Linked DNA regions of Homo sapiens. The protein of the gene in region 2 purifies or fractionates together with the protein of the main gene of each other region. This does not show direct contact. Each region holds a gene or a part of one and is shown on either strand. Other genes may lie near its edges.

Evidence for each region.
Region 1: the proteins of ASIC2 (region 2) and IQGAP2 purify together in Homo sapiens (affinity purification with mass spectrometry; one large-scale study listed by BioGRID and IntAct). This does not show direct contact.
Region 3: the proteins of ASIC2 (region 2) and FAR2 purify together in Homo sapiens (affinity purification with mass spectrometry; one large-scale study listed by BioGRID and IntAct). This does not show direct contact.
Region 4: the proteins of ASIC2 (region 2) and HS2ST1 purify together in Homo sapiens (affinity purification with mass spectrometry; one large-scale study listed by BioGRID and IntAct). This does not show direct contact.
Region 5: the proteins of ASIC2 (region 2) and YME1L1 purify together in Homo sapiens (affinity purification with mass spectrometry; one large-scale study listed by BioGRID and IntAct). This does not show direct contact.

What each region holds. Positions count from the first base shown.
Region 1 is NC_000005.10:76,703,428-76,707,778, reverse strand, and holds part of IQGAP2 (ras GTPase-activating-like protein IQGAP2), read right to left. Parts: intron 580-4,351; coding exon 466-579; 3' UTR 1-465. UniProt on the Homo sapiens protein: Binds to activated CDC42 and RAC1 but does not seem to stimulate their GTPase activity. Associates with calmodulin.
Region 2 is NC_000017.11:33,023,647-33,027,997, forward strand, and holds part of ASIC2 (acid-sensing ion channel 2), read right to left. Parts: intron 2,337-4,351; coding exon 2,280-2,336; intron 369-2,279; coding exon 215-368; intron 1-214. UniProt on the Homo sapiens protein: Forms pH-gated trimeric sodium channels that act as postsynaptic excitatory sensors in the nervous system. Upon extracellular acidification, these channels generate rapid, transient inward currents that fully desensitize.
Region 3 is NC_000012.12:29,147,534-29,152,546, reverse strand, and holds the start of FAR2 (fatty acyl-CoA reductase 2), read right to left. Parts: upstream 3,270-5,013; 5' UTR 3,140-3,269; intron 1-3,139. UniProt on the Homo sapiens protein: Catalyzes the reduction of saturated but not unsaturated C16 or C18 fatty acyl-CoA to fatty alcohols (FAls). A lower activity can be observed with shorter fatty acyl-CoA substrates.
Region 4 is NC_000001.11:86,917,372-86,921,722, reverse strand, and holds part of HS2ST1 (heparan sulfate 2-O-sulfotransferase 1), read right to left. Parts: intron 1-4,351. UniProt on the Homo sapiens protein: Catalyzes the transfer of a sulfo group from 3'-phospho-5'-adenylyl sulfate (PAPS) to the 2-OH position of iduronic acid (IdoA) or glucuronic acid (GlcA) within the heparan sulfate (HS) chain and participates in HS biosynthesis.
Region 5 is NC_000010.11:27,143,952-27,148,302, forward strand, and holds part of YME1L1 (ATP-dependent zinc metalloprotease YME1L1), read right to left. Parts: intron 3,718-4,351; coding exon of another isoform or gene 3,547-3,717; intron 1,640-3,546; coding exon 1,477-1,639; intron 1-1,476. UniProt on the Homo sapiens protein: ATP-dependent metalloprotease that catalyzes the degradation of folded and unfolded proteins with a suitable degron sequence in the mitochondrial intermembrane region.

The DNA.
Region 1 (4,351 bases), on a different chromosome or scaffold from region 2:
AACTCCCAGAAGACAGGGCTTAGAACTGTCTAAATAATTCATTACAAATAATTAGGTTTCCATTTATCCATAGATTAAAAAAACTATGAAGAATTACGTTATTCAAGTGGGACATTTAAAATTTTTTTCATAGGAAAATAGGTTTACATGTTTGTCCCTAGTCAGCTAAATTTCCCACCCCCCAACTTTAAAACAGATCACAGGATGTCCAAAGTTTTAAATCAGAGTACCTATATCACAGTACAGTGTGGATATGTTTCCATTAATTCATTTTATGTCTCATTCTATTATAGTATCAAATTAGCAAAAAGGCACCTGGGTACATTCTTCAGAACAGTTTTGGTCGTTTTAAAAAAATCACACATTTATAAGCAGTGATTTCAATCATGTTTAAAAACAAAAATATTAAACAAATTCATTTCCTAATCCAGATGATACAGAATCCAAGAAATTTCTGTAGGCACTTCACTTTCCATAGAACTTCTTGTTCAGCAGGTATATGAGAAGGTTTACATTCACTTTAACCTTATCAAACATTTTCATTACAGCTACTCCTTCATATTGCATCTGAAGTAAATCCTGAAATTGTAAAAAGCATCATTAAATCTCAACTTTGACATTTTGTGCATTTAAAAAACATATTAGAAGAATTTGTTGACAAAAGTCAGATTCAATTGACCTAATCACCTGGGTGGGGTCTAACTATGTTGCCCAGGTTGGTCTCAAACTCCTGGCTTAAGCTATCTTCCCACCTCAGCCTCCCGAGTAGCCAGGACTACAGGCGCATGCCATGGCACCAGGCCATAGATGGGGGTTCTAAAACTTAAGTGTACATCAGAATCATCTGGTTAAAAACATAGGCTAGTTAAAATAAAGGCTGCCTGGGCTCCTCCCACAGGAATTTCTTGTTATGTAGCTCTCTGGTGGGGCCCATCAATTTGCATTTTAATAAATTCCCAAGTGATTGTGACTTAGATGAAAGAAAATAGCTTTTTGGAATTGATAAGGGCTGTATGAAAGTAAATGATGATCATTAAGTTAATGTCAGATATATAATTTCAATTTTTAATCGAAAATGTTAAAACACAAAGTTCTGGCTAGATGCATATTCTTTAGAAAGCAGTGTTTTCTGGCTGGGTGTGGTGGCTCATTCCTGTAATACCAGCAGTTTGAGAGGCTGAGGCAGGTGGATCACTTGAGGTCAGGAGAGTGAGACCAGCCTGGCCAACATGGCGAAACCCCATCTCTACTAAAAATACAAAAATTAGCTGGGCGTGGTGGTGCACACTTGTAATCCCAGCTACTCAGGAGGCTGAGGCAGGAAAATCACTTGAACAGAGTAGGCAGAGATTGCAGCGAGCCGAGATTGCACTGCTGTACTCCAGCCTCAGCGACAGAGAAAGACTCTGTCTCAAAAAACCCGAAAAACAAAAACAAAAACAAAAACAAAAACAAAAACACAGAAAGCAGTGTTTTTTTAAAGTGAAGTGAGCAAGACATTCACTGGGGAAGCAAAAAGAATATTAGAACTCCTATTTCTATTTATTTTTTCTCATTTTTTGGACTTTTTTGGTATATAATACAGCACGTTTTAGAGTACAATAGCAGAAGCATGTATACTTTACAAATAACTATGTATGGAGAGAAGTGCTCATACTATTTCCTGATGAAGTGACCAAAGTTTGGAGACCATTGTACAAAGCGGTGGTCCGCACTTCTTGAACTAGGCTACTTCTGTTTCTGTACTGAGAACAAGCCCTCATTCTTAAGTCGAACTGTCATTCTGTTTTTCACTGCCAGCATATAAACAAAGGAAATCAACTCTCTTTTTAAAATAAGTAACTGGATCACACCAGCCATATGCATGAAACTAAGCTGTAACATTTCATAGTAACATAGGTACAGGAAGCCTTTCCCAATGGAAGATATAATTCCTGAGCTGTCCTGGCCCAATATCTAAGTCTCATTTTCTTGTTTCTAGCAAGGTCAATTGTAGAAGTTGGAGTCATCTTTGAGAGAACTCTGACTCTTGGCAGCTTCCTCCTCCACTTCCTCAATTACCTCTCACTGCACTTAAGAAAACCCCTACATTATTCAGATATGCTTCTAGAACTAAAATTCTATAGGGAATTGAAGTCCTTTCATCAATAATACTTTTAGCTATTTAGAGTGTAGAGGAGATTCACTTTTCCTCTGGGAAATGCAACATCTGTTAAACAAAGTCTAGTGGAAAAGAATTAAACCAATAGAGTTAGATTGAAAAGGAATGGCATATGTAGGGGAAGTAGCTGGGTCCCCAAAGTAGGGAGCAGAGAAAACATGGCTGGACTCATGACTTGAAAAGCAGACTTTAGTTTTAGCTCTGCCATTTGCTATCTTAAGACCTTGCAACATGACATAACTTCTCTGAAGTTCTGTTTCCCTGTGTGTAAATTGGGGATAACACTGCCAATTTCACAAGGGTGCTACTGGGAATGAGATATGAGATTAAGGTATATGCAAACCCTTTGTAAGCTACTCTTGTCTTGCAGGATCAACTGGAATCCTATGAGACAGGCAGTGGACTAGAGTGATGAAGAACTTGGATCCCAGCTGCATTATCTTCCATAATTATCCCAGCTAATTATCTTCCATAATTAGCTGTCTGAACCTCAGTTCTTCATCTAGGAGAGGAAGAAGGCCCACCCTGCAGTCCCCGATAAATACCTGACATTATTTTTACAAGAAGAATATATATCACATAAGTCATATCCTCCTGTTACCTATATGGCCTATAATTATAGGATATAATTCTATCCTATGGTTTTCTTTAGGAACTGAAGGGAAAATGGGCTGAAGATAACCAAGAGACATAGAGCTGTAATGTTAGAAGGGGCTTTCTTTAGTCCTTTCAAACTTTGGTCCTGTTCCTGGTCCTTTACTCACAGTAAGGACCTGGCCATCACATTTCTCTTTGACAATTTACACATTCATGCAATTGACTGAAAGCTGCATATATAAATAGAAGTCTGCCTTTACATCTGACAGCTATCAAATGCAGGGCTGGCTCCGTGGGTATGCAATCTGTGCAGCCGCACAGGGTCCCATGCCCAGGGTTTTATTCTCTTCTGTCATCATCCTAAAATCCTTAATAATTTTAAAAACAGGGCACTGCATTTTTATTTTGCTCTGAGCCCTGCTAAGGATGTAGCCAGTTCTGATTATGCACTACTGATTTAAAAAACCCAGGACATACTGGTCACCTGCATATAGCTAAGGATTAACATTTCACAATCCATTATGTGTATAAATGAATGGTATGAACAGCTAATCTTACTGTATACAGAATCCTTAACAAAGGAACAAGTGAAGCTTGGTTTTTATACCAGTACTCAAAGGAAGTCTCATGGAATTATTGCTTTCTCTCTAAACACAATATAAGGTGTCTCCTGGTCACTTGTGACTCATTGGTCCAGTTGATATTGACTGGCCCTGGATAATTTCCTTCTTGGCAATCACATATGTCTTTTGCTATTTCTACAGAGGAATCACTAACCAAAGGGTATCACCACAAGCACCTTCTTTTCTCTTCCTGTATTTATCTGTTACACAAAATAACTGAAGACCCTAATTAGCTAAATTATTAAATGGATACATTTAGTGACATTTAAAGTAAGTTAGAAAACAATACTGTTTACTTAATTATACTTTCAATAATTACATAATAGCTTTCATCTTATCTCCGAATTCTAATTTACTCCATTATCTCAATGTCCTTATCAAACCCATTCAGCTCCCGTTTTTCTTTTAAACTTACAAGGGCTGCCAGAAAAGAAGGGCTCTGGCACACACTCCCATGATGGGGAAGTAATTCCAGTGCATGGAGCCCTGGGCTGCACAGACAGTGAGGCCAGAATTCACATCACTCTCAGGATCTTAGTGAGATGATTCATGTAAACATATGCAAAATACCTGGAAACCATTTTGTAAGTAGTTTGGGGCCCAGGTAAGATGTTATTTCCATTTAAAAAGTGTTACATCAAAAAAGAAAAATAAATTACTTCTTTAAATTGGTTTTGTGCTAAGGATTAAGAAGTTGGGGGCAGATGAACATTTGTTTGCAGTGCTCTCTTTTTTTTTTTTTTTGCACAGAAACTGGATTTCTCGGTTTTCATTTACGTGTATTTGGCTTAAATGTGGCTCTTATGATAAAATAACGATAATTTATATTGCAAACACCATTTTTCTATGTATAGATATCTGTTTTGCATAATGCCTTTCATTCCTGTGATCCCAAGCATTTGACAAATAGAGTTAATAAATTGACGTAAAAACTATTCTAGGGGCCAGGTGTGGTGGCTAATGCCTGTAA
Region 2 (4,351 bases):
AGACTGCAAGCTCCTTAAGGGCAGGGGCTGTGTCTTACTCATCTTTGTCTTTGTATTCTGAACATGGAGCGCAGAGCGTGACACACAGAGGGTGTTCAACTAATGTTTGCTAACTTGAACCAAATGCTTATCTTTGCTTTCCTCCTTGATTGCCTCCAATTTCCTCCTTATCCAGTTCCCCCTTCCCCCTGCCTACCATGCCCACTAAACTTACGAGATATATTTTTCTGATTTGTTAAATTTCTTCTCAAGGTACTTGGCTGATGTCTTGCTGGGGATCTTCACCATGGAGAGCTCTTTGTTGTAGCGGGTTAGGTTGCAGGGTGTCCTGCAGAGACAGTAATTGCTGTCCTTTTCCGCCAACAGACCTGGAGGGGAGAGTGAGGTGGGGCTTAGTCAGGTGTGGGCACTGGGATTTCTAAGGGTCCAGAGTAGCTGGATTGTAGCAGCTGAGAAATGAGCTGGGAAGGGGCACTGGTCTGGGGAAAGTGAGGGGCAGGGATTGTGGAGAGAGGGGAACTGGGCTTTTGCTGTAGGTTGATCTTGTTTTCCTTCTGCTTCTTTTAACTGTCATGTCACTCTTTAAAAATTGTTGAAATGGGACCACTTTTGCAGAGGTCTCCAAGAGAGTCCTGGTGTCCTCAGCTTCTCATGGCTTTCTTCCCTGCTCCCAGCCTCAGTATTCTCATCCACAGAGAATGATCCACCATCAAAGCAAATGTAGGAGACCATTTTATCTGAAACCCAGGGCTCTGTGCTCTTCCTGCTGGGGCTCCCTCATAGCCAGTGCCCCACCTTCTCTGCCTGGTGGGTTAGGATGCAGGCAAAGTTCCTTCATTTCTTTCCCTGGAGGCAACTCCCTGCATCTGGAACCCTTCCTGCCCTCTCCTCTCTTCTTCCAATTAGACATAAAGTTTAAGGCATCATTTCCCTCTGACAAAGACTTTCTCCCTGATCAAACTTAGCCAGGCTCTTCAGAACCCTGTTCTCAACTAGGCCTTGACCTTGGCCCCCATCCATGCTGGGCGGGCCTAGCCCAGTTTTAGCAAGAATCCTGCTAAAGTCAGTTTAGAGAGAATCCCCCACCCTTGATATCTGATCACCCTGGCCTGCCTTTGCAGATTTCCCCCTAACTTTGATGTTTTCTCTGGGTAATTTTCCATCTACTGAGTCCTCGCTCTGCTTGATGGCTATGAATCTCCAGCTGTCTTGGCTGAATTCTCAGTTGAGTCCCATCTGTTTCCCCTGTTGTGATACTCTTGACACCTGTTGCAATTGCCCTGAATAAAGACTTCCTTACCATTTTAACTAGTGTCAGAGTGATTTTTTCTTTAACACCTCCCTCCCTTTTTCCTCTAGCCACCTCAGTGTTTCCAGCTACCCTGGGTTTTGCTGAGTCTTTGCACACATCAGAAGTCACTCCCTCTCCTCTCAGCCTGCCCTCCCTCTCTAGTCCTCCTGGAGGTATCTGGACCTGAGGCCAGCACTGCCTCACTTAGCTCCAGCAAGTGCAGATGCTGAACGAACTTGAGGGCACATTGTTTAAAAAGTCTGCTTGTCTTGATTATAAGCCATTTCCTGGGTCCAGAGAGAGGCAAGCATGCAGAGTGGGCCTAGCTTTGGGGCTGCAGCTTGTTTGTGCACTCTCCCTCCCTCCTAGTTTTCCAGCTGGGGAACCAGCAGAGGTCTTCTAACTGGCAGACCCCCCGCAGGCCCCTCAGGCAGGAGGAAGAAGTGTGCTTTGTGTTTTCCATTTGCATGCATGGAATGCAAACCTGACTTTACCTCTCCAGCCCTCCTCCACCTCCCCTAGGCTCAATGGAGCAGAAGAAAGATGGTACTTCAGAATCACCTTGGCCTCCCCATGTAGACACCATCAGAGTGTGTGAGGGGAGGTATTGCCAAGCTCCTCTGATGCCTACCTGGCTGCCCACTGTCTATCCTCTCTCCACCTCTGTCCTCTCCCCTGCATTCCTTAGCACCCTCTGTTTCCCCTGAAACCCACTCCTTCTCCATCTCCACCTTCCATATCTCTTTCTCTCCCCAGTCCCATTTCCAGCCCTCATCCTCTTGCACCAGTTCCCTTCCCAACCTTCTCTTCTTCCTCCTCTCCATCTCCCTCTCCCATCCCTGCAGCAACTCCACCCGACCAGCCCCTTTCTTCTCATCCTCTCTCCATTCCTTCTTCCACTTGATCTTTCCCCAAACCCAGATGATTTCCATGATCTCAGTCTCAGGCCCCCGGCCCCCATGATTCCATCTGTCCCCTGAGTACTGACCTAGGGCAGGCTCTGCACACTCCTTGTGCTGCTCAGGGGTACAAAAAGGGGCATCCCCTGCAAAGAAGAAACACCAGACAGAGTTACTCAGGCAGGAACATTCATGTCAGCAACACCTCCTCTGCTTTGGGCTTAGGGAAAGGGGTGCCTCCTGGCAGTTGAAGGGGCAGCGGCCTGCCAGTGGGCAGTTCGAAGGGAGCCTTGGATCACAGTGCACCCCAGAGCTGGAAGGCTGGCTTCTGATCTGCTATGTAAGCTTGGGCAGGCTGTTCACCTCGTTGAGCAGGAGACAGTAGGATCTGTATGGCTAACTTCTCCCATGTTTCTGTGTAGGTCCAGCCAGCTCCCGTGGGTGACAGGTGGGCTCACCTTGAGGATTGAGACTAGGGAGGTGGTGGTAAGCACCTTGTAAGCCTGGCTATACATCATCTTCTTTAACCCATACAGGCACCCTTTGAAGTCAGAAGTACTGTGTCTGTTTTACCCATGATAATTTTGAGGCTTAAGCATCCTGCCTTCCCAGGACACCAAGGCTAGTAGTGATGGAAGTGGGCTTTGAACAGAGGTCAGTCTGATCCAGAGCCTGGAGCTCTTCTCAGCACAACCACACTGCTGTATGGGAACAAGGGTTGTTTTGTGTTTCTTCATTGCTTTGTTCATAATTCCACATTAGTAACTGAGATGTCAGTATTAGTGTCATGGGTGTGATTGACACCTCTACTGCTTGCCTTTGGCTAAGGGTTGGTGGGGAAAACCTCACTGGCTGGTGGCCTAGTCTGAGCATCAGGTGAGTAATATTCCCCAGTACTGGATTCTCCTTGCTGGGATCTCTTTGTAGAAACCCAGGATCTTTTCTTTTCCTTTACCAAGCTCTAAAGTTAAAGTCCACCATGTTTTTTTCCTTATCATTTTCCCCAAATCCTTTTTCGGAGCCGAAGAGTCAATATGCTTTCTCCTTTCCAAAAACAACAGATTAAATGACATGTTTCCCTGTTTGCTCTGTTTTCTAGGAAGCTCAGAGGCCATTTTATTATTATTCGTATTTAAAACATACAAATTTATTATTATGTTACAGTTTAGCAGGTCAGAAGTCAGATATAGGTCTCATTGGTCCAGAATCAAGGTGTTGGGTGGGAGGCCAATGTTCTTTTTGAAGGCTGTAGGGGAGAATTCATTTCCTCGCCTTTCCCAGCTTCCAGAGGTCACCCCCACATTCACTGGCAACCCACATGCATCGACTACCCACATTCTTCCATCTTCAAAGTGAACAAGTTTGCATCTCCCTGACCCTTCTTTCATAGTCATATCTCCCTCTGACCCTGGCTGGAAAAGGGGGGTTGATTTTGAGGACTCTGATTAGATTTGGGCCCACCTTTCAGCACAGATTATCACAGAAAACAATTGGTAATGAACCAAATGTCCAGTATAAGGATTTAGTTAAGTAAAATTGAATAAAGTATGATATAACCATGAAATAACAGCTACTAAATATAATAACAACATTCCCGGCACATAGTAGGTCTTTAGTCAGCATGACTTTTGGTTCCCTCTTTCAATATGCTAAATAACAACCACTGACTTTTATAGTTTACAAAATATTTTTATATCCTAGCCTAATTTTCACCTTATAACAGCTGCTGATTGTGTTTTAAAGTTCATAAACGTGAGAACAGAGAGGTTTAGTAACCAGGTCATACAGTAAATGAGTGGAAGAGCCTGAATTAGAAACCAAGGCCCCACTCATGTGTCCTTGCTGCAACACTGCGCTCTTCCTCCCCAGATCAGCTTTCCACTCTGCACTTCAGCCTCTGATAAGCCAACTGTGTGAGATGGCCACATGCATTGTTAGTCTGACAACAGAGGTGTCATTATGTGCACATTTATTTGCTGGCCAATAGACTTTTGCCTCATTTGAAGGAGTGCTAGACATTTGGACACAAAAAGTGAAACATCTGGATGAAAGAAACATCTGGATGCTCAAACATGTACTACACGAGCTGCAAGAATTGCAAGCATCCAGTTATCTGGAAGCTAAACTCTCAGAGGTAAGAACAGCAGACAACTGGCAAACA
Region 3 (5,013 bases), on a different chromosome or scaffold from region 2:
ATTCCCTTTCACACTATTTTATTCCTCAGTGGTTCTGAGTGTATTGCCATCATGCTAACAAGGACAGCTGGAATAAAGATAAGTTTTGAGGTCAGAGAGTAGTTAAGGGAGGAGTCTGGGGACAGAGGACTTGCCTGTTTTCTCAGTTCCTCTTTAAGAGGCACCAGAGTTACAAAAGGTCACTAGGTGTATTTGGCAAGAGACTAGGTGTACTTTAAATTGATTTGGCATTTCCTAGGATATTTTAAAGGATGACTTGATCAAACTTTTGAACTTACAGATTTTTTAAATTAAATGAAACAAAAAGGATTACCCCCTCAAAAAATTTCAGTCATTGGCTCATTTTCTCACCGTTCGACGTTTGGATGAATTAGACCCAAACATTAATTTAATTCAATAACTACCTTTGGGATCCAAGAAGTTATTCTGCACCTTTAGTTGAAAATTCTAATTTTGTCCAAATAATGATATTTCAGGAGTATTTAACACACTGAATACTTGCCTACTTTTTGTTTTATTTTCCACCAAACTATAAGGGTCAGAAAGGTTCTACAGTCTTTTCAGTGTGCTCAATCAACCTTCCTCAAGCTACTTCTGAAAAATGGAGGGCAAAGTTTAACCCTTCAACAACAGCATATTTTTTAGAAAAGAACTATTCAAAGCAAGTAGACATTTTTTACAATTATTACCTCTTTTTACTTAGAGATAGTACAACCTTGAAAATAAAGAAAGTAGAAGGTGTCATCTGTTGTCTTTATTTTGTCAATGAGGAAACTGAAATGTAGGAAGACTGAATGACATGTCCAAGAGCACCTAAGTGAGCAGCAGATAAATTTCAGGTTTGTACTGGAGAACTCACCGTAAATGTGGGATTGCTGTTCAAACACTGTTATTTGGTTAGTTTTAGACCAAGTTTGTCAGCCTGGGGTCAGGATATAATTTGTAGGACCCAGTTCAAAATGAAGATCCAGAGCCTCTTTGAAAATTATTAAGCCAGCAGACGGTGATAGCAGAACATTACCAAACGCAGGGCCCTTCCAAGTGCAAGGCCCTGTGCGGTTGCAGTTTTGTATTTCCATGAAGCTGGCCCTGCCTGGAGCCTCTGGACATCTAGAATGTAGGAGGCTGGGCATCAAGGAGGCCATGAACTCCTGAAATTGTAGGTGGAATTTTGTGTTAATATGTATGCATTTGTCTTTCATATTCCATAGCTTTCATCAGATTCTCAAATTGGTCTGTTACCCTCTTCAAAGGTAATACATGTTCCAACAGAGCCTACAATGTCAGAATATATTGGTAGGGACAAGCATGCTGGTGGTCACTGTGCATGATCCTTCACAAGGCTATATTTGTGAATAAGTAAGTTTTCATGAGTGCATGGGAATTAATGCAAAATCAAGGAATTCTTAACACTGATGAGACGTTGCCAGAAACAAATGCACTCAAGAATGCTTCTTCCTCAGGAGATAGGAAAGCAGATGGTGAGATGGTCAAGATGATCATATGCTTTATAAACCCCAAAGTGATACCCTAATATAAGCCATTTTATTTATTTTCAACCTCTCCCTCTTCCTCTGTAACTGGATGTCACATTTTAGCTTCCTTTAAGGAAAGCATATTTTCATTTACTTTAATTTCTCTAATAGCTGTATGATTTACCAACTCATGGTGATTTACATCTCTTTTATAGATAATTATAGCCCAATGTTAGAAATAGGAGTAAGTGAGGAATTTGTTAATACAGCAGGGGCAGAAGCAGCCCTCAGAATTAGGAAAAGAGTACTGTAAAGACGTGGATCCTGAGAAATACTACCGATGAAATATTGACACACGCGTCGGCCTGGTAAAAACCTCATGCCCATCTCCTAGAAGTCTCACACACAAATATCCCTTCTGCGGAAATGCCTGCTCTTGCAGTTTAGGTGGCTGCCTTAAGTTTTTATTTAGTCCCTTGCCCCCCTTTCTAAATTTTGGACTAACTACACCTGTCAGTCAAATCTCCAGCTCTTATAAATGGGAATATACAGAGATGGGTAATTGAAACCACGGGGTAATTCTCAAATTTCCATTTGCCCAGTGTCAAATTTCTCTCAACCTAGCAAACAGAAAAGCACGATCTACCTGAATTCCCTGGTCACTTTTCTGACCCTACTCTGTCCTTGCTCATCACATAATGGGGGCACTTTACGTGATTCAACGAGTGGCCAAACTCTTGCAGATCCAGCGATAACCTTGGTTGCTCACACCACATAACTCAACCGTGGAAGAAATGGTGCCACCGCTGGCAGGTGAGACGCCTTCCTCTGGTTTGTAGGATACGATTGGGCATGAATTGTTTTAATAGACTGAGACTGCCCCGCGGGTAATTCTACTTGCTAGGAGTGTTGAGCAGCCTTCCTGCAAGCCATCTACTCCAGTTGGGAGTCTGCTGGCACCTGCTCCCCTGCACACCCCCAGGATGCCCAGGCCGCAGGAAGATGTCTAAAACTTCCTACAGGGGCAAAGCCCGCCCTGGCCTCACCAGTCGCCCCAGCGCGCGTCAGCCACGACCCCGGCGAGGCCCAGGTGGGAGGGTAGGGACGTGCGCAGCCTGGGGTGGGGCTGGGGGCTGGCGAGGACCTGCTCCGGGGACCAGGACTGGGCGCCCTGGCGGTCCCAGGCACCGGGAGGGGACCTAGGACCGCTGCCGTTTCACACGTGGCCCCGGCATTTTCGCGCTCTCTCCAGGAATAGCCCCAAGGGCCCAGGAGGCCTGGGTGGGACTCGGCCCCGCGCCTCTCTTCCCGGGTCCCCAGTCCCCAAGGCGCGGCCCCCCACATTAACCTTGCTGGGTCCTTCCCGGCTTTCTGCCCTTTGCAACCCCCGCGCGCCCCACCTTGGCGGGCTCCGCCGACGCCAACCGCGCGTAAACGGCCGGTGACGATTGGGGTGCAGCCGGGGGCAGCTTCAGGGGGCAGAGCCTCCGCAAATGCTTCTCTCCTCCCACCCGGCCTCACACCCACCCTCCTCGAGGTCCCGCCGGGAACCGCCCCGCCCTGCGAACCCAGCCGAGCCCTCCCTCCTGGGCCACCCCCAGTCCGGTCTCTGCTTTTGGAGCGCGTGGGCTCTGCGAGCGCCAGGGCTGGGGACCCTGGAATACCTGTTCCTCCAGCACGAGGATGGGGTCCAACTAGTGGTCCTCTAAATCCTGCTCCTTCCCCGAGGCTACGGGAAGCGCTCCAGCCACAAGGAAACGGCTCCAGTCTTTCGGCTCCCAAACGTGACACTCTATATATCCGGCTCGGAGACTGGGTGTGGGGCGGGAGGAAACCACCCTCCCTCCGACCTTCCCCGGCTCCGCCGCTGCCTCGGCACTGGGCGCGAAACCGGCGGCAGCCTCAGCCCGGGGCGGGAGGAGGGTGAGGGGCCAGCGAAGGCCCTACAGGTCGCGGGGGCGACAGCATCGTGGGCAGGGCGGCCGCGCGCGCAGGCCCGCCCCGCGCTTCCATTCGTTCAGCACCAGCGGATCCACTGGCTATGACTCCCGCATTTGTGTGGTTTGGGGGAGGGGAGTTGGTTTTGGTTTCGGTGGGTTTGGTTTGTTTGTTTGTTTGGGGCTTTTGTTTTGTTTTGTTTTGGGTTTTGGGGTTGGTTTTTTTCTCCATTTTTTAATCAGTGGGCGAGGGGACAAGGAAGCTAGAAAGGCGCCCCTCTCTGGTGTGGGAAAGGAGAACTCCCACACCGTGAAAGGTGGCGGGGTAGGGGGGTGGAGGGAGAGACCGAGACAGGAGAGAGATTCAAAGGTTCTAGTCTGAACTGAACGCTTGGGGGACATACCTTTCCCCACCCACCCTAGCAGAAAAGGCAGCCAAAAATCCCAGTTTACTCAGCTTGACTACACTGCACATCCCGTGGGAGGGATGCTCTTGTATCTGCTAAAGACATTGCGGAGGCGCCCTGCAGTGACCCACGAACGCAGTGGCTTTTTAAAACCCAAGGGCGTGAGGGTGGAGGGTGATGCGAGGACTTCAGGTGAGGCTTCCTCACACTCGGGGTTTGAAGGGCAGAAATCCGGCTCTGCCTGCCTATGGTGGGGTGGGGGTGGGTAGGAGACTAGAAAGGATCAGAGATGGGGGCCGCAGAAACAGCAGTGAGCCAGCTGTGCTCAGCAGCACTTCTCCGGACTTAAAAGAAAAAAAGATGTTTCATTTCTTAGCCTGGTAGCTTTTTTGGGATTTGGTCATTGTTAAATTTTAAACGGAAAAACAAGCTGCCAGGGAAGCCTTGTAGAGGGATGGACAGGCACGTGAGTGGAGCCCTTGGCCTCAACCAGGAAGTGCTGAAAAACGGCCAACGCCCATCCTAATTCCCTGGACAATGTAGGAGGTAAATTTCCAAATAAATATGGTGTGTTAAGAAAAATAGAAAAGAAATATTGTCCTATAAGCTGTTCTGATTCTCCTCATTATAACAATCCACATGCAATTAAAGAAATAAAATTTGACTTTTGAAAGTTAGAATTAAGGAGTGATTTCATGAAATTAAAATAATAACACCCATCTTGAATTCTCTACTACTGGGCTCTTTAATGAAATGTGTTAAGCTAAGTGTAGCCTAAAGGCACTGACTAATTTCCTCTGGTGACCGCCTGAATGCAAGAGACAGAAAAAAAGTTACAACCAAATTTATAGTATTTTTCGTTACCCCTCCCCTCCTCAAGAATAAATTTGAATGTATCTTCAAAATGTGTGTGACAGCACTTCAAATGATAATGTCAAATGCTGGTGAAAACGTATAGAAATCACTTAACAGATAGCAGATGGAAGGTAAATTGTAATCACGCTTTTGTTGGAAAGCAATTTAGCAACACATTCCCAAGGTGTTCAGTAACGAAATTTTTTCTTGTTCTGGACCTAGATTCCCATGTCTTACAATGTATTCAAAGGAGATAATCCATAAAAGAGAAATGCCGCATGTACATAGTTGCATATTTATTACCGAGTTGTTTATAAAGTAGGAAATTAAAAGCATACT
Region 4 (4,351 bases), on a different chromosome or scaffold from region 2:
AACTGAGAAGTCCAAAATCAAGACACCAGCATCTGTTGAGGGACTTCTTGTGGCATCCTCACATGGTTGGGGGTAGAAATGGCAAAAGGGGGACAAATGCTGTCTTCTTACGTAGAAAAAAGAGAACACACTGCCACAAGCTCTTTTATAACAGTATTAATACAGTTATGAGGGGAGAGCCCTCATCACCTAAACACCCTCCACCTCCCGCCCCAATACTGTTGCATCGGAGATTAAGTTTCCAACATGTGAATTTTGGGGGAGACATTAACACCACAGCAGTAGGTTTCAGAGCAAAGAATATTACCAAGGATAAAGATGGTATCTTGTATAAAAAAAAGGGTTGGTCCATCAAGAAGACATGACAGCCTAAATGTGCATATACTTAATCACAGCACTTCAAAATACATGAAGCAAAAAGTGACATAACTACAAGAAAAACAGACAAATCCACAATTATCAAAGATTTCAAAACCCCTCTCCATAACTGATGAAGAGGCAGAAAAAAATCAAGAATACAAAACACCATAACAATACTACCAACCGACATCTACAGCATACTTCAGCCAATAACAACAGAATACATATTTTTCACGTTCACCTGGAACATTTACCAAGATAGTTTTTTTTTATTTGTAATTGACAAAACTGTATATATTTATCATGTACAACATGTTTTAAAACATGTATATATCATGGATGGCTAAATCAAGCTAATTAAGACAACATGCATTACCTCACATACTTTTTTTTTTGGTATGGTGAAAACACTTAAAATCCACTCTCTTAGCAATTTTCAAGAATACATTGTGACAGGAGAATGAGGGAAAGCTTCGGGAACCATGTCTTTAGGTAAGTGAGGCAACAGAATCAGGTGCACAAATGACCGAACAGGAGCACTGACAGTTACCATCTATTGTTAACAGGCAGAAAGGCAGAATACGTAAGTACAGGTACTGGTAGGTGGGTAGATCTTAAAAATAACTAGGCTATAGTGAACCATGATTATGAAGTTCATCTATAAGTACATCCTTCAAAAATGGTCTTCTGGAGAGCAATCTTTGAACATTCATTATTATTTCAATTTCTCTAAGTGCCAAAAAGCTATTAGAAGGCCTACCAGAGTGGTGGACAGACATCCTGGAATTATCTTAATTGAGATCAACTATTTCAGGTGACTACTCCATGGCACTAGACATCCTATTCAAGACTAAGTGAGGCACCAATTACCAATTCTAGAATAACTGTATTCCTATTAACCCAAAGTCCTCAAAACAGTAGCTACTATGAGGTTTTCCAAATGATTTCAGAAGTGAGGAAATCTAGCATTCTCTGGAACATCTTACAGGTATTGCTGCATGGTTTCAGGAACTTACTTGTAAAAACTACCAAATTCCAAAAAGCAGTCTCAACCTTGGCCCTGGAATTAGTTGTTTAGTCTAGTAGAGTTTTAAGAACATAATGACTAACATTAATTCTCACCAATGGATGATTACATAATCCATTCTCAATTATTTTCCCCATGTAAAAGATTATTCCTAATGTGCTCATAAATCCATATAGAGATGTAAGAATACAGTCAACAAATATTATTTACAATGCTAAAACCCTATAGAAAATAAAGTTACCAAGCACATAGTTCTATCACTTATGTGAGAAAATATTTCACTGCACTGTTCGACCAGTCAATATTAGCAACAAGTGCGCTCTTGAAATTCGGGAAGAACTACTTTTTACCAGCCACAAATTCTGACATTTTATAGTAACGAGTCACAGTTAAATAGTTTTCATTTGGATTCCCTGTCCTTTTCCATTTCTCACTAGAAAATTAAGTCTACATTTTAATACAATGAAGTATTAACTTCATTTGAAGTTGAAAAACTTCTCTTTTTCACAGGTAATAAGCTTATCTCCTAAATTTAACTCACAATCTGCACGTTATGTTACTAAAAACAAAAAAAAGTCCACTAAATATGAAACATCTACTATAAATCTGTGATCCTTGCCATTAAAGGAATCACATACTCCTTTGCAAATCTGATGAAAGTTATGTATATAATTTCAGGGAATTCACTGATACCTTGAAGCCTATTTATGGGTCCCCGAGGTTTAAAGAATCTCTGATTAATGGAAAATAGCATCCAAAATTGATCCAAGAACATATGAAAACTTAGTATGTGATTAAAAGAAGGAATGTTAACATACAGTTGGAAAAAATGATTTACTGAGAAAATCATGATAAATCTCTGTAAACATACAAATGGTTTAAAGAGCCAAATGTAATAAACTATAAAATACTATAATAAAATACAGAAAATGTACACAATCCTGGCTCTGGGTAAGTCTTCCTAAGCAAAATATGAAAACGACTTCCCTAAATTGATAGATTTAACTGTGTGTATTTTAAAACTTCTATATGAGCAAAACACACCATAAAGTCAAGAAACAAATGGCAAACTTGGACAAAAACAAATAAGAGGCCGGGTGCAGTGGCTCATGCCTGTAATCCCAGCATTTTGGAAGGCAGAGGGGGGCAGATCACTTGAGGTCAGGAGTTCAAGACCAGCCTGGCCAACATGGTGAAACCCTGTCTCTACTAAAAATACAAAAATTACCTGGGCGTGGTGGCACGTACCTGCAATCCCCGCTACTTGGGAGGCTGAGGCAGGAGTGAGCCGAAATCGTGCCACTGCACTCCAGCCTGGGTGACAGCAAGGCTCATCTCAAAAAAATAAATAAATAAATAAATAAATAAAAATAAAAAAAATTTAAAAAAGACATAGGATAGATAAAGGATTACTAATTCTAATATTTAAAAAAAAAAGTAAACCACCCAATAGAAAAATAGAAAAAAGTAACAAATAAAAGGGCAATAAACATGTAAAGATGTTCAACCTACCTAGAAATTAGAAGGTAAATTAATTGAATATATCATTTCACAGCTTCACACTGGCAAAAATTAAAAGCTGATTATCTTCTAGTGCTAATGAATGTGTGCTGGCAGTGTAGATTACTACATCTTTTGAAAAACAAAAAAATGTTGAAAAGTAGATTTTTAAATCTGTTAAATTATAAAATATGTATATTCTTTGTCCCAGCAATCTCACATACAGAATTCATCCTAGCACAAAATGACATCAACATGAGTTAAACGGACACATAAGGATGTTTCCTATAATTGTTTATAATACCAAGAAAGAAAAGAAACACTCAAAAAAATTATATATATATGTATATATACACACGCACACACACGACAGATGGGGGACAAACTGAATGTCCGTTACTAGAATAATGGCTTAATAATTTATGATACATGCATACTTTGGAATATTATACAGCTATTATTAATAGAATGAGTAAGTCACATCTATATGTACTGACCTGGAAAGATGTGTATAACATTCAAGGCAAAAAAAGCAAGCCGCATTGTAATATGTGGACTACAATGCCATATTTGTTTTTTAAAAAATAAAAATAAAAAGCTGTATTACTGAATTTTTTTTTTTAGGAATTCCTAATTAGTGAATTTCCCAAGTAGTCAATGAGTACACCTCAGTTTTGAATACATCTATTGCTCTATTAGAAGTCTCACCATCAAAATACTGTACTCTCAAATCAAGGTATATTAAAGCCACTATCAGACAATACTATCCTTTGGAATCTTCTACAATGAAAATGATAATAACTACTTTTAAGGACAAAATGTTTAATAGGTTTTTTATGCCAAAATAAAAATGCTTTTTTAACATTGTGATTTTGCACGTATGGAAAACAGCTAGATTTTTCTTTCCTATAGTAAAAATAAGCTATCTAATTCAGTTGTTTCATTGGGTAACATAATTATGTTCATTACATGAATCTAAACAAGGGGCAGACGTTACATTAAACCAATTCCTTTGTATCAGAAATTCAATTTTCTCTGAATGATATTCATTCTTAGCAATAAATGCAATTAAACACTGATATTACAATTTTAAAACTCTATTCAAATACCTAAATCTCAGCGTAATGTCAATATAAAGTCTTAAGCAGCCGGACATAATTAAAGGAGCACTTGATTTGGAATCATACATACCTGGGTTGCAATCCTGGCTCTGCCACTTAAATGCGATGTGGTCTTGGGCAAGTTATATAACCTCTCTAAGCCTGTTCCTGCATCTGCAAAAATGGCTTTCTGTTGTTCTTTGGTTTTTTTTTTTTTGAGACTGAGTCTCACTCTATTGCCCAGGCTGGAGTGCAGTGGTGTGATCTTGGCTTACTGCAATCTCTGCCTCCCAGGTTCAAGCGGTTCTCATGCCTTAGCCTCCTGAGTAGGTGGGATTACAGGCGCCCGCCACCCCGCCCGACT
Region 5 (4,351 bases), on a different chromosome or scaffold from region 2:
CTATTTTATATCCAAGATCCTAGGGAAAAGATCATCAGCAGCAACAGCAGAAACAAACAGTGGCTATCATCTATTTGTGTGTCTCAGTTAGAATTTAGGGACTTTTTTCAAGGTCCCTTAGCATCCAGTCAAAAAATCTCTTCCTAATACCTCTGCCTGCCTAAACCTAGCAAGCAGCTGGTGGTATGAGGAACAATCTTAAGAGTAAATGTAAATATGCAGACTAGAAGAGCAGTAGGAATAATCATAATAACATAGTAACAAAAAGAATTTTATTCTATTGAACACTTGGTATGGGCCAAATATTTTATAAGAAGGCAACTTTAGGCAGAGGCAAACTTTTAGTCTAAGCCCCCAAGCTCAAAACCATTTCATTTTTTCCTCACACTTACGGTTTTTTATGCCCTTACACTGAAATAAAGGCAAAGGAAGGGTCAAGAATTAATGAATTAAGTTTATGCAAAGGACAGCTTCAAATCAAACCTTCATTATAAACTAGTCAAACCTGCTATTTTGTTCCTGGATTTTTATGGCCTGTTTAAGTGCCATCCAAAGAAAAACTCATAAAGTTGACATCCCTTTTCAGACTAGTATGAACCCACTTATTATACTACCATACTGTTATGAGATTCAAGTAAAAAAAAATGTAGACATTCCACAAAAGGGATAACAACTGTTTTTTTAATCAATGTATTCTCAAAGATTAAGTATGTTTCCTGGAATTAAATGTGTGTCACCTAAAATTAAAACAAACAACGCCCCCCCATTCTGCTAAATGCAATGTGGTATGCTGGATCAGATCCTGGAAAAGAAAAAGGACACTTGCAGAGAACTAGTGATTTGGTGAAAACAAATTTTGTTGAAATTCAAATAGTCTGTAGTTTAGTTAAAAATAAGGTACCAATGTTAGGCCTGCACGGTGGCTCACGCCTATAATCCCAGCACTTTGGGAGGCTGAGGAGGGTGGATCACGAGGTCAGGAGATCAAGATCATCCTGGCTAACACGGTGAAACCCCATCTCTACTAAAAATACAAAAAATTAGCCGGGCGTGGTGGCGGGCGCCTGTAGTCCCAGCTACTTGGGAGGCCGAGGCAAGAGAATGGTGTGAACCCGGGAGGCGGAGCTTGCAGTGAGCGGAGATTGTGCCACTGCACTCCAGCCTGGCTGACAGAAGGAGACTCCGTCTCAAAAAAAAAATTATTGTACCAATGTTAATTTCCTAGTTTTAACAAATGTAACATGATTATGTAAGATGCCAAAATTAGTGGAAGCAAAATTCTGTACTATCTTTGCAACTTTCCTGTAAATCTGGTACTATTTCAATATGAAAAATTGCAAAAAAAAAAACAAAAAAAAAACACTTCAGGAAAGAACCCAGCCCACAATAAACGCTACTGTGAAAGCTAAGAAATGGTATCTATAATTATTAATAGTGCTAAAATATTTAATTGGAACAAAAAACACATTAACATACCATATTTATTTTCAAAGAAGGATTGTGCAGAGACATGGGATGTATGCCAATGGGAAGAAATGTTTTTGCCTTTACAAAATCCAGGAAGTAGATTTTCTACCAGCTGATCAATCTGTCCAATTTTTAGTTCAGATAATCCAAGGTCCCTTAAGTTAAGTGAAGGCTGTAAAAGATTGGGTCAACCAGGTATGCATTAATATTATCAAGATATTTAACCTAAGGAGTACATATTATCAGTTAAAACAATCAGATTTTAAAAGTCTAACAAATATATTTCCTTTTTTTAATATTTAAAAATAAATTGATGCAAATATTTTCACAGTTCGTTTTACTGAGATCAGTCATATGAGGTTTGACATAGGTTAAAAAATTATATTCCTAATGGTATCCTTAAATAAAGAGATGACATTTCAGCATGAATGAGAAAAACTTTTTTTTTTTTTAAATCAAACCCAAACCACTACTGTCCTAAGCATTATGGTTCACAGAATCAAGTGAAATGTATGGCATTTTTTCCTTCTCTCCATACAAGGGTACTCTGATCAAGAGCTAGTCTATCAACTATTGATCAAGCATTTATAATGACAAGAGTGTAAGAGTAACTAACTGCAGGGTTACAAAGTATGTTATATAAGGTCCAGGGGATTTTCCCCAACAGTGTAGAACTGATTGGAGGATAATAGTAAGGTTCTTGAATTGGGGAAATTCCATTCAAATGATAATCCTCACCAGTCCATGGAGCTTTTAAGCCCCTAAGCAGCCATAAACAAAAGCCCACTTGACAAAGAAATGGTATGCTTGGTTACCATAGGACATCTCACTCCTCTGGCCTCATTGCTTAGATCCTTCCTTGAACTCAGAGGTTCTAAAGTTACCCATATCTTCTAATAAAGAAGAAAATTAAAGTCAAAACTGTGTGAAAATCAGGCAAAAAAGTCTAAAAATCACAAAAATGTGTGTATACCCACTTTTAAACAACAGGATAGGGATTATTTTCTTGTCCACATGAGCTGAAAGAGAGGCACTTAAAGGCAAGTAACAATTACATGTTACTCAAACCCAAAACAGCTAAGGTGGGAAGATCGTTTGAGGCCAGGAGTTTGAGACCAGCCTGAGCAACATGGTAAGACATCATCTTGATGAAAAATTTAAAAATTAGCTGGGCATGGTGGTATGCACCCGCAGCACCAGCTACTCAGGAGAAATGTTTGAGCCCAGGAGCTGGAGGTTGCAGTGAGCTATGACAGCATCACTGCACTTCAGCCTGGGCTACAAAGGGGAGACCCTGTCTCTAAAAATAAAGTTTTTTTTAAAAGAGGCATGGACACGGATTATATAGCTCTGGACTGATGTCTGGGAATACGGTACTTTTTAAATTAGCTATAACTCATATTCTTAGAATTCATTTTCTCAATACTAACATAACTATAAAATACACCTTATTTCCTAATAGTAAGGATCAAAGGCAGAGATCATGCCTTACTCATCTACGTATCCTAGCATACAACATGACAGCACATAGTAAAAGACAGTTAAAGGCATGATGAAATAAAATACTTAAAAGTACTTTTTAAGCTATTAAAAATGATCAAGGCGGCTTAGGGACGGGGGCAAACAAAAAGCCATCCAAGGGTCTGGAATATCTCAAAAAATTCAAGGAAAGAAAAAATTAAAGAGATAGGTTATGGCCAAACTGTGAAGAGCCATGTTTGAATTTAATTCTCTAAGTAACATGATTAGTTCTGTCTTATAGAAGAAAATGGAGAACTAAGGAAGATAGACTGGCCTAGCATGGTGGCTCGAGCCTGTAATCCCAACACTTTTGAGAGGCTGAGGTGGGAGGACTGCTTCAGGCCAGGAGTTCGAGATCAGCCTGGTGAAGAAAGCAAGACCCTGTCTTTACAAAAAATTTAAAAATGATAAAACAAACAAACAAAGAAACTAGACTGGATGAGAGAGAAGGCTGATGGAACAAGTGAAAGATGGCAAGAACCTGAACTAAGCCGTGACTAAGAACGATGGACAAAACAAATCATAGACAATAGGCATTTGGAGAAACCCGCAGTGTACAGGGATTGAGAGGGAGAAGGGTTCTGGACGGATGTGCCAGTTATCGGTTGTGTCCAAGCTCTTCTTCATCCTTTTTGCTGGCTCCATGAACATGGATCTGTACCCTTCGAATATTTTTCCTTTGCCAATTGAAACAATGTTAAGCTTCGTCAGGAAGTCACTGAACATACACTGTAGGAAGAGAGGTTTTGATTCCTGGTTGTGGTATGCTCATTTAGCAAGTTCCTGTCTGTAACACCCGTGGTTTCTATAGCATCTGGCTCCTGTCAATTGTGCAGTTTCACCAAACCCTGGCTCCTGGCGTGCACAATGGCCAGCAGGACCTAGCAGCTTCCCCTGGCACCACTCGTGTAACAGCTTCTCTAGTAGGACACATCCCCAGGAACAGCTTTTCCCAGTATCCTAGAGGGCAGACTTCCCAGATTTCTAGCACGTTACCCTGGCATGACATCACAGCAACTTTTCTACCATTCAGTGAGCCAAGGCCATGCCTTCGCCAACAATGTCAGGATCTCAGCCCTGGGGATGGAGAACTCTTCCTGACTCTATCTCAGCCCTAGAAGTATGAGCTGCTCCCTAAATCTGCTGGTCCTTTATTTTTTTAAGAGTTTTATTTACTTCTTAAATCCCTACCTATTCCACTTCCCTGTAAAAACAGGTGTTTTTTTTTAGATTAAACCAAAAAATGAGATTACATTTTTATATTTATTTATTTATTTATTTTTGAGACAGAGTCTTGTTGTCACCCAGGCTGGAGTGCAGTGGTGCGATCTTGGCTCACAGCGACCTCTGCCTCCTAGGCTCA